2 separate regions of the Homo sapiens genome follow, and region 2 is linked to region 1. The links come from fine-mapping of genetic effects on gene expression. A gene starts in region 1. The other region holds a variant in brackets. All regions are shown on one strand. Distances are from middle to middle. Region 1 holds the start of CEP41 (centrosomal protein 41). Region 2 overlaps CEP41 (centrosomal protein 41).

What was found. PIP is the estimated chance that this variant, and not a neighbour inherited with it, causes the effect.
Region 2: its variant is fine-mapped to the expression of CEP41 in whole blood (TOPMed, PIP above 0.99).

The regions. Positions count from the first base shown.
Region 1 is chr7:130,439,425-130,442,334 of GRCh38, reverse strand. It overlaps CEP41 (centrosomal protein 41), which reads left to right and starts at 1,319. Exons shown (of 11, transcript NM_018718.3): 1 at 1,319-1,401. The coding sequence starts at 1,369. It overlaps LOC105375505 (a long non-coding RNA gene), which reads right to left and starts at 581. Exons shown (of 3, transcript XR_927973.3): 1 at 1-581. RefSeq lists an enhancer at 879-1,633.
Region 2 is chr7:130,395,610-130,398,519 of GRCh38, reverse strand. CEP41 (centrosomal protein 41) reads left to right here. Exons shown (of 11, transcript NM_018718.3): 11 at 1-2,910. Among named protein-coding and RNA genes, the nearest start is that of CPA1, 17 kb to the right of the region's middle. The variant G/T (reference allele first, on the strand shown) is at 1,488.

The DNA.
Region 1 (2,910 bases):
AGATTAACATTCTTCCCTCTGCCTCCTTCCAATTTTTTGCAGCCTTCAAACCCTTCCTTAGCAGAGGAGTGAGAGACTGAGAATTTTAGAGGGGTTAAAGAACTGGCAAAGATTATGGAAATTAAGACAAAACTTAATAAACATGAAAGAGTGACATGAAAAGTCCAAGAAGCAGCTGTGGCCAGAATTCAAAATTCTGGTCAAGCAGCACTGACTGGCAACATGATCCAAGGTGTAGCCCTAAGGTTGGGTTGCTGAAGTGCCTAAGAGAACAAGGGCATGTGAGGCCATGTTGTTGAATGGGTCATCTCACAGACCCTGAAGTAGCTCAAATGTGTGCTATTATTCACTAACAGACAACTGGCGAGTATGAACTGCTCAGAGTAACCTTTCTCCATTCCTGGAAAAACAACTTAGAGCAAAGGACAAAGGGTTACTGTGTTGTTCCTTTCATGTAAAAGGAAATAATAATTTTGATGGATTTGGTGGGACATTTAGGAGCCAAGTCAAACTGTGTGTGTAATTGTTTTGTAAAGGTGCTAGGACTTCATTTTCAGATCCGGAATGGGAACAGGTGGTGGCTGGTGGCAGGAGTCACAATGGTTTCCATGACGACGGGATTGGGTCCTAGTCATCCTCCCATTCTCCACAAGACCTACTGCAGCTTTTCTCATAAGGTGCTTATTAAGTATTTGTTAAATGAACGATGAACCACAGAATAGCGCGTGTGCTTTGCAATTAAGGATGTCGCTCTATAGCTAGCCTAAAAGCTTTTAAAGCACCGATAATTACTGTATTTACCCATGTATTTTGCATAATTCGCATATTAACTTAACCAGAAAATAATAAACCATACTCTCCCATTTCTGCTGAACAACCCTGGCCCATATAATATTCCCTGTTGTGGAATCAGTAGCCCAGATGTTTGGTTGAAACGGCCATAAAACGGAGCTGGGGGATGGGGAGTCTTGTGTTGTATTTATGGTTCCACATTAGCTAAAACTCGTGTTTTGTCCCGGCTCTCAAGCCACTGCCCCCGCCCCCGGCTTTGCGCAGGCGCCAGCCTTCCCCTCCCCCCGCGCCTCTCTTCCCGCCCTAAGGCTGGAGCCGGCGAGCCCCAGCCCAGAGAACAAAAGGCCTCGCTAGCCGGCGTCCCGCGTTGCCCTTGGCAACCATTGAGCGGCGTCTTGCCCTTCTGCGACCCTGAGATGAGAGAGTAAACGGGGCCCCCATTGGCCGGCCGGGGAAGACGGGCCAATCGGAGAAGAGGGTATAGGGAGGCGGCTGAACAAGGTTGTGGGGGTAGGAAGCTAGGGTTAGAGGCAACCCGTGAGGCTAGAACCCCGAACGTGGTCGGTTGGAGAAAATATGTCCCTCCGGAGGCACATTGGGAACCCTGAGGTGAGGGCCAGGTCTCGGCCGGAGAGCCGGAGGGGGCGGGCGCACCGGAAAAGGCTCATGTGGGCAGGGAAGAGCAGCCAGCGACTTCCGCCGCCCGGAAGGCGGGAAGGGGCCGGCGTGAGGAGGGGTCGGGATGCAGGGGCGGGGCGGGCCGGGCTTGGGGGCCGCGGGGCAGCGTTCAGGACCCCGTTTTGAGGAGCGATCTCTCCCCGCGTACGCACGCCAGTACTTGTGACTGCGAGGAGCGAAGTACCCAAAGACACAGCCCTTGCCCTCAAATGGCTTACAGTCTCGGAGTGACAGTTACAAAACAGAAAAGACAAAGGAAGCGCTGCACACTAATGGCACGTGTTGAAAGCCAGCCAGCATCTCTGATTGTGGGGATACAGGAAGAGCAGGAGTAAGCTGACCAAACCTTTGGAAAACGGGCAAAATAGGACATTAGGCTTACCCCTCTCTCCATAGGACCCTTCAGTTTCTTCATCTGTTTCACCGCTAGTCCCCTGCTGCATTTGTGGCAGTTTCAACAAACGTTATTGGAAACTTCCACGGTGCAGTAGGTGCTAGACGTACAAAGAAGACAAGGCCTCTGCCCTTTAATAAATTGCGTATAGTGGACCAGGCGCGGTGGCTCAGCCTGTAATCCCAGCACTTTGGGAGGCCGAGGCGGGCGGATCACGAAGTCAGAAGTTTGAGACCAGCCTGGCCAACATGGCGAAACCCCGTCTCTACTAAAAATACAAAAATTAGCCGGGCGTGGTGGTGAGGCGCCTGTAATCCCAGCTACTCGGTAGGCTGAGGCAGGAGAATCGCTTGAACCCAGGAGATGGAGGTTCCAGTGAGCCGAGATCGTGCCATTGCACTCCAGCCTGGGTGATAAGAGCGACTCTGTCTCAAAAAAATAAAAATAAACAATAAATAAATTGCGTCTAGTGAAGGAGCCTGTGAACAGAATTTGAGTACAGTGTGGTCGGGGAGCAAGATGTTACGAGAAAATAGGTAGTACTCAACTGAGGGAGTGAGAGAAGGGTTGTGGAGATGGAAGGGGTGGCAAGGCCATTCATTAGCCAGGTGAAGCATCATCCCGGGTAGAACAGCCCAAGTGAAGGTAAGGAGTGTGTGAACTCAGAACAGGCCCCTGTAGGAGTCCAGGCTTTCTCTGCCTTGCTGAGGTTCTTAGCCTTTATCCCAAATAGGAGTTGTAACTGTTTCATCTCTTGGTGGCTGCCTGGTACTAGGCTGAGAAAGCTGTAAGGCTGAGTCTAAGCCCTGCAAGAGAGCCATGGTCAATTGGTAATGTCTAAATGCTGCATGATCTCACTTATACGTGGCATCTTAAAAAGTCCAGCTCATAGAAGTAGAGAATAAAATGGTGGTTACCAGAGCCTGGAGGGTGGGGGGAAGGAGGGCAGAAATGGGAAGATGTTGATCCAAGGGCACAAAGTTACAGTTAAACAGGAGGAATGGTTTTTGAGATCTCTGGCACAGCATGGTGACTATAGTTAATAA
Region 2 (2,910 bases), 44 kb after region 1:
TCACATCTGCCCGTGTGCCTGTCCCTGCCACCTTTTCATTCACTGTTCTTGACTTCATGAAGGCTTCTCCGGGCAGTCTTGGTGTGAGAAGCTGTTTCCAAGGGTGCAGATGAGCCTTAGGTTCCAGCCGCCTGCAGACCCCACCCCAGCAGGCTCACTCAGCAAGGAGCTCTCTGCCCAGCATATTGCAGGCCCTGTTTTGAGTATGGAAGCCAGTGCCTGTGTACTCACTGAAATTGAAGATGAGGAAAGTAGCTGTACACTCACTGAATGCTCCCCCTTACTAGATATTTCCTGGAGCCAGAAAGGTATGCATGTGGGTGTCTTCACACCGGGGAGGAGGGCCTCTCATGGGAAAGCCCTGGCCACCACACCGGCCTGTGCCCCTTGAAGCCCACCAAAGCGGCCCTCACTTGTGGTCAGTATATCAGTTATGACGCCCATTGCCCAGCTTCAGTCCATCCATGTTAGATGGACAGAAATTATGGCCAGTTGAAAATACCAGCTTTGGTTGGACAACTGTGGACACACAAGGTGAAGAGGACTCCGAAGTCCTTTGTCAGGGCTGACAACCTCGTAAGCCCTTGCTTAGAAATACAGTATTAGTCTAATTGAGTAATTAGTGCAATTTCCTGCTTACTTTTCATTCTCATGACTGAACTGTGATTAGGAAGTTGTGATTATAGATTCTGGTTTTGGCCGGAATTTTGAATCAGCATTAATTGAATTGCTAAATGACTGACATTCATTCCATTTAATTGGGGGAACAAAAGGCCTCAGGTAAGGATGAGGAACTCTGAAATCAGATGGAAAAGAGCGGTGTTAATTTTTATGGTCTGTGATCGTAGCTGTGATAAGGGACTGAGGAATAAATTGTGCTCTTTGTCATGGCAACCAGCTTCTGAAAAGCCCACTGAAAATTGCCTGTCCTGCTGGTAACTGCTACGGGGTAAGATTTGCCTTAACAGTACTATTTTCTCGCCACCAAAAAAAAAAAAAAAAAAAAAAAAAAATGCACCACAGTATTTCTAGCATGGGGGCTGTGTTTGTATGAGAAATAAACGTAATAAATATCTCATAGAGACATATGGAAAAATAACTTTCAGATTCAGCCCAGTTCTGTTTTAGAGTGTGTTTATTCTTCTCTACTTGATTTCCAAAGTGCAACATTTTCCGATGCTTTAGAAATCAAACAAACCAGGGACATTGTTCAGATGTCAAGCCATGCCCAATTTTCCACAAGATTCAAGAATCTTGTATAAAATTCAGCCAACGTACACATAGCTTTAATGAGGAGCCTGTCATGTTTCCCCATAAATTTATTGCCTGAGAACTTAGTTCAGCCTTTGCTAATGCCAAAATGCTCTGGCTTTGTATTTTCTTTACAGCATAGATAGAAAAATGCACATTTTTCCACACTCAGCTTTCCCCTAGCATGGACAAGATTTTCAGCCATTTTTGCCACATATACATTTTTAAGGAAAAAA[G/T]ATTTTTCTCTGTAAGAAAGTTCTGGTTATGCTGTTTTAAAGGTGACTTGTCAGGAGTTGAGACTTCCCTGCCGGATTCTATTTTGAAAGTAAATGGTCTTCCCTCCTTGTTCCGATTCTGCGTTCCCATCGTCAGACAACTTTGGAGTATTAGAAACCACTGTATATATGTGGAAAGCCAGGTCAGCCAGACCTGTTAGAATTGGTGTGCACTCACCTGAGAGATCTGGCAGGTTGGATATATTTATGTGTATTTCTCCACAGTGCTTGCTTTGCCCTGTTGGTAAGGATTTTAAATAACCATGCTCAAAAGAGCTGTTCTAATCTGCGTTTTGCATGTTAAGTGTTAATATCAAACATTCTTTACGTGCTCGAGGTATTGCTTTTAACATTCTACTTTGCCAGTTTCTTCATTAGATTAATTGACATGTATTATTTAAATGACCAGTGATGCTTTGTGCAATTATGAATGTTGAAGATTAAAGTACATAGTTACTAATTTGTCGTTTGCTATTAATATGCTGAAAACTGCCAACTTCTCTCTTCTTTTCTGTCGAGATGATTTGGGGGAGCCACAGGAGACTGGTGTGATTTTTGCTGCATCTCCTAGGAAAGCATTTTTTAAAAAAAATAAATGAATCAGGAAATCAGTCCAATTAGGGCAGGGGGCCTCAGCTCTCCAGTCAGAAAGCCTGGATTTCTTTTCCTGCTCAGGCTGGGACTGAAGCCACCTTCAACAACTGGATCATGGCTTCCTACCAGCGTCTCAGGGGTTGACTAGCTGCCCTTGTCTGGGGCTTGTGAACCCTGAGACAGAAGGTGCTTCATCGATGTACAACTACAGCACCCTGAACAGCAGTGATGGCCAAAGTTTAAATAATACCTTAAATGCTTTAAAGGGGTTTGTGTTTAAGGAAGGGAGAAAAGAAAAAAAGAAAGGAAGGGAGAAAGAAGCAAGGAAATGGGAAGAAGGGAGGGCAGAGAGAAGAAAAGAAGCAGAAAGCGAGAGAGAAAGGAGAAAGCTACATTACTTATTTGAAAACAAAAGGAACACCCTGGGCTGTAATAATGTCAGGCTCAATCTCTTGAAAAAGTATGGAATGATTTAAATGGCCTGCATTCATTTTATCTTTTATCTTTTTTTTTTTTTTTAACCTTTAGTGGTTAGCCAGGACCAGCACGATCATATTGGGCTTGGTATAAATCCGAATGAAAAGAGACCAAATAACATTCATTAGTTGCTCAGGGATTTTTCCTGTGGTGCTATTTAAATTATACAAAAATTCTTAAGACTTTAGGCTACTCGACCAAGAAAACAGAACAAAACAAAAAATCGTGTTTTCTCTAATTCCCTTGTGGAATGTAAGTGAAATCAGAGTCCTAGGCTAGGAAGAAATACGTAGGTAATTTTTCTTGTGTTGGT